Homo sapiens: one gene and its partners. The protein of the gene in region 3 purifies or fractionates together with the protein of the main gene of each other region. This does not show direct contact. Each region holds a gene or a part of one and is shown on either strand. Other genes may lie near its edges. The genes, in order: TMEM132A, CLSTN1 and ST8SIA5.

Region 1 (3,647 bases), on a different chromosome or scaffold from region 3:
TGAATAAGAAGAGTTCACAACCGCAGAACTGCAGCTGGGCTTTTTGGGGGAATGTGAACGGCCCAGAGAAAGGATCATTTGGTGGAAGCAGGGGGATGGAGTAGTGGCTATGAGGGCTCTACCTGGGGCACAGGATTGGTTGGCATCTCTTAGAATAAGACTCACAGACACTTGCTATGCCTGGCACATGGCTGGGGCTGGGAAGATAGTGGCCGAATGAATGAATGAAGGAATGGATTATGCCTGCTTTGTGCTGCTTCCTTGAAAAAATCTGTCCTTGGGTCTGCTCACCTGGGGATCTAGAGGCAGCATGGCAGCCTCCAAATCTGCTCAACTGCACTCTATAACCAGCCCTCCCTCCTTTGCCCCCTGGGTGGAGGGAAACTGCCCACCTGGAATCTGGCTCTGTGAGCCCAGCACGGTGGCAGGTGATGAGGGTGGTGTGGTGCCTGGAGCCCTTGAAGCGGTCCAGCTTGGCAGTCCAGAGTGTGGGCTGGGCTGGGCGGGCGGCTGTCACATGCAGCCCCTTCTTCACCTTGATCCTGGGGAAGAGAGTATAGGCTCAGTTTGGCAAGGTGCATGCTGAACTGTGGGCTGGATTGAAGGGGAAAGACAAGGAGCCAAAGCCATCTGACCTCCCTGGCTCCAGTCTGAATCTCCTCTTCACCATCCTCCAACCCAGAAGGACCCCGCCTCAGTGCAGCTCACACCTTACAGCTCTCCCCCACCCAAAGACCACTTACGCCTCCCCACTGCCCATAAGGTCAAAGCTTAGCCGGGCATTTGGGGGCCCTCCAGGGTCTGGTCCAGCCTTAACTTCGGTTGTGACATCTCTCCATGCACTCTCTGCTTCAGCTACACACAAGTTTCCCACACACACGGCACCCATTCGTGACTCCAAGCCTTTGCCCAGTCTGTGCCTTCAGCCTGCTCTGCCCTTTCTTACTTTACCTGCTGATGCTTTAAGCCTCCAACAACTCACAGACCATTTCCTTTAGAAAGCTTTTCCAGTGGTGGGATGAATTTCCCCCTTACTGCACCCACTCACCTGAGCTCCCACCGCACTTTGAACCTCCCTCAGTGCTTACACACCCACATGCCTTCTAATCCAATTCATGCCCATCCAGCTCCCTTCCCTACCACTGGGGCCCCTTTCTGCCAGATAGGGACTGGCCCTTGCTCGTGTTTGGATCTGCAGAGTGAAGACACAGGGCTTGGCAGGCTGTAAGTGTCTAGGAAAGATCTGCTTAATAAGAGTGAGCATAGGAGGGCGTAGGAGATGGGGAGACACAGAGACGGGACATGCACAAACCCAGGCAGGGCTTGAAACTAGGTCTAGGTTTCAAAGCATGTCCACAGACCGCTCTTCGATCCTCAGGAAAGATATCATTACAAAGTGAGCAAGTCCCAGTGCCTCACCCTAACCAAGCCCAGGACTATCCTGCCTAGAACTCAGGCTTCTCAGAATCTTAAAGCCTAAGAGATGCCTCTCCCATGGATTCCTGCGCTGGACTCCAGAAGCAAGTCATACTCTGCAAGCCCTTGCCGGGTGAACTGGGTAGGTGGGTGGGGGCTGCTTTGGGGGAACTTATTACGGAAAAGGACACAAAGAATCAGGGCCTTCCTATGGGGAAGAGCAAGCTCTGTCCAAAGGCTAGACTCCTACGGCGAGGGTGGCAAGGAGGGACAGCATGTAGGTGAACGTGATTGGGGCAAATATCCCTCTCTGGAGCACTGGAGCAAGAGCTCACACTTAGGTACTGCAGTCTCTAAGCCCTTTGCGGGTTCCCCTCCCTGGAGACTTGCAGCTGCCCTGAAGGTGGACCGTTAGCCCCATTGGACAAAGGAATCTCAGGGAGGTGCCAGGGGAAGGGGCAGCTTCCTACTTCTGACTCTAATTCCAGGGCTGTGCCCATGGTGGGCTCCTACCAGCACAGTCATGGCTTTTTACCTGGAAGGAGTTTAGTTTGGTGGACACATGTTTTGCAGAGGTCAAGGATTCCAGCAAGGACCCCAGGAGGAGCAGGTACCTGTCCCTAGTCTTCCCACAGAGGTTCCCACCCTCACCCATCCCCGTGGCCTGGTGCTCACCGCAGGGTCAGGAGGCTGGCTGTGAAGTTGTGCCGAAGCAGGAGGGTAGCACTAAAGAGCTGGCCGGGCCGCACTGGCATGTCAGGCACCCGCAGAGTCACAGCCTCGTCCAGAGGTACCTCCTGGTACTGCGGGGGGTCTGCTGGGCGCAGCTCCACACCCCCCACTGGGAGGGCCTGCTCCCCAGGGTCGTTCTCCTCGCCGGAGCCACAGCCCCCAGGGCCCTCAGCTGCAGGCTCAAGCGTGTAGGCCAGCTCGGCCCGTGTGGTGGAGGCCTGTGAGAACCAGTGCGAGGGAAGCTCCAGCTCCACCACGCAGGCGCCCAGGGATGGCTGTGAAGACACGACAGCAGTAATTGGCATGGGGGTGGGTGCAGGGCGAGGAACAGGATTCTCAGCACCCATGGCAGGAAACCCAGAGCTGGAGGGGCTCATGAAAGGGAGGCCCAGCATGGGCCGGAGACACAGCCTGAGTGACACAGCAAACCAGCAACCTGGCTGGGGCTTCAAACCAGGTCTAGGTTTCAGAGCATGTCCGCAGACCACTCTTCAGCCCTTGGGATAGGTCTCATTACAAAGTAAGCCAATCCCAGGGCCTTACCCTAACCAAGCCCAGGACTATCCTGCCTAGAATCCAGTCTTCTTCTCAGAATCCTAAAGCTCAAGAGACGCCTCTCCCATGGATTCCTGTGCTAGACTCCAAAATAGTGGAAATAGCAATTATAAAAGTAACACTACTAATAATGCAAACACACTGGCTGATTGATTACTCTGCCGTAAGCTATCCTTACATTCATCTCACTTGTTCCTTACTCCAACTCCAGATGGGGTAGGAATTCTTAACACCCCATTCTTCAGATGAGGAAACTGAATCTCAGAGAGATTAAGTTACTTACTCAAAGTCACACACCAAGGACTGAACTCCCTCTGGGGCCCTAAATAACCTTTTCACAGCACTGAAAGCTAGTGGGGGCAGAAATGGAGTCGGGTGGTCCACAACCCCCGCGCTTCCCAGGAGTGGGGGTTTCCTCTCTGCCGCGGGCCCACCACCTGGCTGATGCAGCTGCAGCAGGACCAGCCTAGGTGGGGCCTGTCTACTCACCTGGAAGCGGCAGGCTTGGTGAGCAGTGCCGGCAGGGTGTGTGGCATGGAGCCGGGCACAGGGCAGGCTGCCAGACCCTGGTGGCCAATCCTGCCCTTTGAGGTGGAAGAGAACCCGGGCGTAGGGCTCTGCTGGAGTCACAGCCGCTTCCACTGAAACGGCCCGCACGTCCCATGGGACTGGCCGTTGGTGGGGCTCAGTGACTCGAGGGGGGACCACCTGGAGGGAGAATGAGAGGGCTTAACAAAAGAGGAGCTTGGGAGGGGAAGATCTAGGAAGATGGGATCCCAGCTTGGCAGAAGAGAACCTTTATGGGCCTCAGTTTCCCCCTCTGGAATATGGGGAGCACAGCCGGGGCTGGGGAAGGCTCCCAATTTGTACCCAGCAGACCTCAGGCCCTGAGTCCTGTTAGCCTGAGAGTCCCCGGTGCCCCCTCCTTACCTGCTGAGTGGCAA
Region 2 (3,647 bases), on a different chromosome or scaffold from region 3:
GAGAGGCTAAGGTAGGAGAATCACTTGAACCCGGGAGGCAGAGGTTGCAGTGAGCTGAGATCGCACCACTGTACTCCAGCCTGGGGAACAGAGTGAGAAACTGTCTCAAAAAAAAACCACAAAAACAAAAACAAAAAACTTAATGGAGAACAGAAAATGAGACAAACTAAATGTAAAGGTCAGTCTCATTCAGATGCATGTGGACTGAAAGTTAAGAAGATTAAAAAAACAAAGCCATGTCAGGTAGGAGGATTTTTATTTGATTTTGGTGGGAAAGCAAAAAAGAGGTGAGCCCCACAAGAGAACACAGGACTTACAGGTTCCAGAGAAGAAGTTGTCAGGGAACAAAGTAGAAACTTAAATGTTTTTACAATTAAAAGCAAACACACACCAGGTTAGGTCTCCAACTTGTGAGTTCCATGAAGTTCTGACGAAGCACAGAAGCTGGGGTGTAAAGTCAGTGGGGTTAGCAGGGACTGTCTACCTAGCTGAAAAGCCGGCTCCTCGATTCTTACCATCTTTGTCAACAGTAAAGGGCACGTCTGGAGTGATGATTTCGTAGCTGCAAATCTGGCTGAACTGAGGGGAGCAGTCGGCATCCACGGCCTCCACCCTCAAAATGCTGTCGTACTGCTTCCCCTCGATGACCGTGGCTTTGTAGGACTTCTCCTTGAACACGGGCGCGTACTCATTCACGTCGTTCACCTGAATATGAACAGTTGCTCTGGACAAAGGGAGGGAGAAAAATATTTTTCTGCTTGTTTTCAGTGTGAGAGAGAGACAGAGAGTGTGTATGTGTGTTTACCCAATTCTGCCCTACTTTAAAATTTCCTGTTTCTGATACCTTGTTTCATGAAATTCATATGATGAAGTCAAAAATTAAACAAGCTATTCACTGCTTTTCATTCAAGTGTGGAGATAACAGAAAGTTAAAAGAGGGATTTGGGTCGATTCTTCCATATCCTAAGAATAAAGCAAAAAACCAATCATCTAAAATAAAAGAGACTTGGGTGTTTTTTTTTGACAATATGGGACAAGACAGGCAGAAGGGAGATAAACAATACCAGACGTCTGTTTGCTCTCCAATTATAAAGTTGAAACATATTTTGTAGCAAAATCCAGAAAAAAAATAGAGCCAAGGGAAGAAGGGGTATGAAACAGAGAAAGCATGAAATGGTTTGATTCTGAGAGTTCAAACGAATTCTGTCCTACTTCTAGGGAATAGGCTGGAGTCCATGGCATCACCTGGTCCTGATTCAACAAATGGAAGAGTTCAGGAGAGGCAGGCCGTTGCCACCTGCCAATACCCCAGCTCAGTTATCAAGAAAATTAGGGTGTCATCAGACCTGGCTACAAATAAAAAAAACTGTAGGTTTCAAGGGCTAATGGTCAGGGCATGCTTCTGAATCAGTCAAGGACTTTGGTCAAAATCTGACCTTTTCAAGGGAAACAATAACATTACACTGTGGAAAAAGAGAAGAGACTCACTGGGGCACTGCACCTTCTGCTCACCATGAGCCTCCTCATCCCAGTGCCATCGGTCTGACCCTCACAATGGGTTATGTGACACCATCTCGCCCACATACCCTTCTTTAGTAGATGTGCTAAGTAGAAACTGAGACTCAGGGCCGGGTGTGGTGGCTCACACCTATCCCAGCACTTTGGGAGGCTGAGGCAGGAGGGTCACCAGAGGTCAGAGTTAAAGACCATCCTGGCCAACATGGTGAAACTCCGTCTCTACCAAAAATACAAAAATTAGCCAGGTGTGGTGGAGCGTGCCTGTAATCCCAGCTGCTTGGGAGGCTGAGGCACGAGAATCGCTTGAACCCTGGAGGTGGAGGTTGCAGTGAGCCGAGATTGTGCCACCGCACTCCAGCCTGGGTGACAGAGCGAGACTCTGCCTCAAAAAATAAGTAAATAAATAAATAAATAAAACAAAAGAAAAAGAAACAGACTCAACAAAATTAAATTTGCACAATGCCAAAGGGCTAGCAAGTGGTGGAGAAAAGACTAGAGCTCTAGAAAAGACTAGAGCTTACAATCTAATTGTAGAAGACACTGGACTTGAGAACACCAGCAGTCCCCAGCCTTTTTGGCACCAAGGACTGATTTCATGGAAGGCAATTTCTCCACAGATGGGGGTGGGAGGATGGTTTTGGGATGAAAATGCCCCACCTCAGATCATCAGGCAGTCGATTCTCATAAGGAGCGCACAACCTAGATCCCTGGCATGCTCAGTTCACAACAGGGTTCGCGCTCCTGTGAGAATCTGATACCGCTGCTGATGTGACAGGAGGTGGAGCTCGGGCAGAAATGCTCACTCGCTCACATGCTGTTGACCTCCTGCTGTGTGGCCTGGTTCCTAACAGGCCACGGACCAGTACTGGCCCACGTCCTGAGGTATGGCGACCCCTGTTCTATGTTGTCTTGTCCAAAGCCCTCTCTGCTACAACTGCAGTTCCTAACTGGCAGGAGGTGCAGCAACACACTCAGGATTGTGGCAGCGAGCCAGCCTACTTCCACCAGCAGTGACTAATTTTTTTTTTTTTTTGAGACGGAGTTTCATTCTTTTTGCCCAGGCTGGAGTGCAATGATGTGATCTTGGCTCAGTGCAACCTCCACCTCCCAGGTTCAAGTGATTCTCCTGCCTCAGCCTCCCGAGAAGCAGGGACTACAGGCGCGTGCCACCATGCCTGGTTAATTTTGTATTTTTAGTAGAGACAGGGTTTCTCCATGTTGGCCAGGCTGGTCATGAACTCCTGACCTCAGGTGAAAATCACCTCAGGTGATCTGCCTGCCTCGGCCTCCCAAAGTGCTGGGATTACAGGCGTGAGCCACCGTGCCTGGCCAATTTTTGTTGTTATTGTTTTTTAGGGACAGGGTCTCATTCTGACACTCAGACTGGAGTACAGTGGCACAATCATGGCTCACTGCAGCCTCAACCTCTCGGGCTCAAGCAATCCTCCCGCCTTAGCCTCCCAAGTAGCTGAGACCACAGGCATGTGCCACCATACCTGGCTGTTTATGTTTTGTAGAGATGGCATCTCCTACATTGTCTAGGCTGCTCTCAAACTCCTAGGCTCAAGCAATCTTCCCACCTCAGCCTCCCAAAGTGCTGGGATTATAGGTGTGAGCCACTGCACCTGGCCAACAATGATTAAGTTTATGCCCTTAGGAATTACAGCAAAAGATAAATATGACAACAAAATAACCTTCCTAAGGGAGAAGCAGACTTTTTCAATTTTTAATGTAGGGCCTTTACTTCTTTAATAGAGTATTTGGTGTGATAAAATTATTCACTCATTCATTTATTAAAAACCTAGGCCGGGTGTGGTGGCTCACGCCTGTAATCCTAGCACTTTGGGAGGCCGAGGCAGGTGAATGATGGGGTCAGGAGTTTGATACCAGCCTGGCCAACATGGTGAAACCCGTCTCTACTAAAAATACAAAAATTAGCCAGGCGTGGTGGCAGGCACCTGTAATCCCAGCTACTCGGGAGGCTGAGGCAGAAAAATCACTTGAAACCGGAAGGCGGAGGTTCCAATGAGCCAAGATCGTGCCACTACACTCCAGCTTGGGTGAAACAGCGAAACTCCATCTCAAAAACAAAACACAAAAAGGCCAGGTACGGCTCACGCCTATAATCC
Region 3 (3,647 bases):
TGAGCCCTGCTGTCTGTCTCTGGCCTTCAGCGGTCCATAGGCTGCTTCTCCTTGGATCTGTATGTCATACTAAGTTGTGTTACACCCACTGGCATTACCTGCGTGAGATGCAAATCCACCTGCTGTCACCAGCCTCATGTTCCAGGCCTTGTAAGACCCACCTCATAAAGGTGGCTCAGCACCATCCTCCCTTAGGGCCACAGTGATTGAGAACACATTTGACGCCGCTCACCTGCAGCTCCTCCCCCACATCCCCAGAATGCATGAGTCTTACCTATACACTTTGGTACCAGTCACAGAATGCAGGGAACTCTGGGCTTTGTTTCGCACTCAGCCAAGAAGCAAGGCAGCCAAGGCCTTCAGATTTCTTCCAAAAAGACCTCTACATGCCCCCACTCAGAATTTCTATAAACTACATTCACTGAATGCTGTCCTGGGCCCAGAGCTCTCCTGAATGTGGTTATGAACACACCCATGCAACCTTCCTCCTCTTCAGAGTCCATACGCCACCACACCTGGGTAATTGCCAGAACTGGCTGAAAGCGCAGGTTCCAGCGCCCCTTCTCTGAGAGTAGTGCGGTGAGTCTGCACCAACCGTCAGCCCAGGTGATTGCAGGTGCTCAGCATCAGTGATCTGAACAGTTCACGTCTGCAGCTCACTCACTGCGGTCCTCAATGGCCAAGGTCAGTGATCTGAACCATTCAGGTCTGCGGCTCATTCATTTTGTGGTCCTCCATGACCAGGGAGCCACCGTGCCAGCCCTGCACAGCCTACCTCCAGAATTCTTTTATGTGAAAGGAAAAAAATAAATATCTATCTTGATTAAGACTCTGATATTTTAGAAGTTCTGTTATAATCAGCCAAATCTATTCATAGTCCAAGCCCCAGTGTTACAAATAAGGAGATTGAGGCTTTGAAAGACAAAATATCTGCCCACGGTCATCAAGTGAGCTGAATCTTTCAGAGTCTAGATCTGCACTGGGTTGTTCTTTCTTGTGCTCACAACTTCTGCATGTGCGTTTGCTCTTGTGCCTACCTCAGGAGGGGGACGAATGTGTTGTCATTCTCTCCCTATCTGCAGGATATCCTCTGCAAGCAATGCAATACCCAGAATTTTCTAGTCACTTTCTCGCCAAAAGTCACTCAAATCATAGACAGTTGGCAGTCATGGTTCTCAGACAGAACCCCCAAAGAAATCCAGAGGGTGGGCTTCTGCACCTCAGACAACTGGTCAACCAGGACCAAGACAACTGAGTCCAGAGGACCGTGAGTGAGTCAGGCAAAACCCCAGGGACATTGCCACGGAGGGCTACTGCTGGATTGGCTCCCTCGCCCCACCCAGACCGCCCCCGCCCAAAGCAGCACCTTGGGAAACATGCGGAAGATCTCCTGGTTGATGTGGTAGATGCCACTGGTGTCCACCTCATACTTGAGCTTTGTCCCCAGGGGAGTGTTCTTCTGGGTGGTGAAGAGAAAGGCAGGGGCGTTGCAGCACCTGGACAGAGTAGACCTGCCAGGCAGGGAGACAGGCAGGAAAGACGTGATGCAGGAAAGATGTGATGGAGGGCAGAGCACAACCTCACGGAGAACAGAGGGGTGGAGCCGAGGCCTCTCCTGCTCACCTATCCCACGCTTGCCCCCACCCTGCATGGAGCCGAGGCCTCTCCTGCCCACCCATCCCACACACATCCCCACCCTGCATGGAGCCGAGGCCTCTCCTGCCCACTCATTCCCAGGCTTGCCCCCAACCTACACCTCTGCTCATGCAGTCCCCTCCCTTTTCAACGCCTCTCCCAAGGCCCCTGCCTTCTGCCACTCATTCAGGGCCCAGGCCAGGCTTCTTTCCATGAAGCCCCACCCAGCTGCCCCTGTCTGCACTGTATGGAACTCCTCGACGGAGCCTGAGTCCTGGCCACTAATAGAGGGTAAGGAGGAGCTTTCCAAAGAGCTCCCAGCCAGGCCTGGCATGGAAACTTGGGCTGCCGTCCTGGTGTCAAGAGGCCTGGATTCTTGCTTCTGCTCTGCCCCGACCAGTTGTGAGGCTACTGGAAGGTCTCTCTCTTTCTCTCTGGGCCCTAGTTTCCTCATACAGGCTTGGCTCTTCTACCTCTAATCCTCTGTAATTTGTGATTCCAGCTTGCAAAAGCCAGGAATGTTTTATGATTTTTTTTTTTTTTTTTTTGAGACAGGGTCTCACTCTGTCACCCAGGTTGGAGTTCAATGGTGCGATCTCGGCTCACTGCAATCTTCGCCTCCTGGGTTCAAGTGATTCTTCTGCCACAGCCTCCCAAGTAGCTGGGATTACAGGCAAGCACCACCATGCCTGGCTAATTTTTTTTTTTTTTTTTTTTAGTAGAGTCAAGGTTTCTCCATGTTGGCCAGGCTGGTCTCGAACTCCTAACCTCAGGTGATCCACCTGCTTCAGCCTCTCAGACTCCCAAAGTGCTGGGATTACAGGTGTGAGTCACCATGCCTGGCCTATAATGTTTTTTTTTTTAATTTCATCTCTTGCAGGTACTTCACTGGGAAGCCTAGCTGGCTCCCAGTCACAGAGAGCAGAATTTCCTGTGGAGAGCTGGGTTTCAGAATGTAACAGAAGCTTCCCAGAGAGGAGACCAGAGGCCTGGCAAGGCAGGGCCATGGATTGGCATTACAAACTGGCATCTGGGCCTTTTAGCTTTGCTAGTTCAGAAGCTCAGTCTTGTCAGCCCACTGGAGATCACTCCTATTGAGGGATACTGACTCACACTAACCAAGCTCATAAGTGACTGATATACAAACCAGAATGTCAGTGTGCCTATTTGTAGGCAGCAGGGTGGGAGAAGGCCTGTTACAGGATTCATTTCCTGTAATTCGAAAGCTCATGCCTGCCTTCTAGCACCCACCTGACACTCCCTCATGGCACCAGGTTCCTGCCAGCCTGAATGAAGCATCTCATCATTGTTCCATGAGCTTGAAATGAGAGCAAAGGGAGGCAATGACCAGCCTGGAAGGTTTTCTCACTTAGAGCATGGCAAGGCCTGATGTCACTGCCTTTTCTCACACCTGAAACTGCTCCACACCCCTCATGCCCAGAGCTCCACCCCTGCACTGTGCTGTCTTGTCCCTGCCAAAGGCTCCCACACTCATCCCTGTTTTTCTCTTGCCACATCATTTCCCTATTGCTTCATGTTTCCTGAGATATGTGAGTCCTGCTGCTGAGACTTTTTTTTTTTTTTTTTTGAGATGGAGTCTCGCTCTGTCGCCCAGGCTGGAGTGCATTGGCATGATCTCCACTCACTGCAACCTCCACCTCCCGGGTTCAAGCAATTCTCCTGCCTCAGCCTCCCAAGTAGCTAGGATTACAGGTGTGCACCACCACACCTGGCTAATTTCTTTGCATTTTTAGTAGAGACAGGGTTTCACCATGTTGGCCAGGCTGATCTTGAACTCCTGACCTCAGGTGATTCACCCGCCTTGGCCTCCCAAAGTGCTGGGATTATAGACGTGAGCCACCATGCCTGGTCCACTGCTGAGACTTCTATTCTGCCCTAAGTCTGGACAACAGGCTTTTGCCTCTCACTGACCTGGTCCAGGCTGAGTGTTTTATCAGCCATACTCTCAGTGTGTCAGGTCTCACTCGCCCCCAGGGGCACCTCTGTGCAGT

The links.
Region 1: the proteins of ST8SIA5 (region 3) and TMEM132A purify together in Homo sapiens (affinity purification with mass spectrometry; one large-scale study listed by BioGRID and IntAct). This does not show direct contact.
Region 2: the proteins of ST8SIA5 (region 3) and CLSTN1 purify together in Homo sapiens (affinity purification with mass spectrometry; one large-scale study listed by BioGRID and IntAct). This does not show direct contact.

What each region holds. Positions count from the first base shown.
Region 1 is NC_000011.10:60,927,405-60,931,051, reverse strand, and holds part of TMEM132A (transmembrane protein 132A isoform b precursor), read right to left. Parts: coding exon 3,634-3,647; intron 3,412-3,633; coding exon 3,193-3,411; intron 2,424-3,192; coding exon 2,092-2,423; intron 543-2,091; coding exon 393-542; intron 1-392. UniProt on the Homo sapiens protein: May play a role in embryonic and postnatal development of the brain. Increased resistance to cell death induced by serum starvation in cultured cells. Regulates cAMP-induced GFAP gene expression via STAT3 phosphorylation.
Region 2 is NC_000001.11:9,750,958-9,754,604, forward strand, and holds part of CLSTN1 (calsyntenin-1 isoform 1 precursor), read right to left. Parts: intron 725-3,647; coding exon 516-724; intron 1-515. UniProt on the Homo sapiens protein: Postsynaptic adhesion molecule that binds to presynaptic neurexins to mediate both excitatory and inhibitory synapse formation.
Region 3 is NC_000018.10:46,687,409-46,691,055, forward strand, and holds part of ST8SIA5 (alpha-2,8-sialyltransferase 8E), read right to left. Parts: intron 1,512-3,647; coding exon 1,367-1,511; intron 1-1,366. UniProt on the Homo sapiens protein: Involved in the synthesis of gangliosides GD1c, GT1a, GQ1b, GP1c and GT3 from GD1a, GT1b, GM1b and GD3 respectively.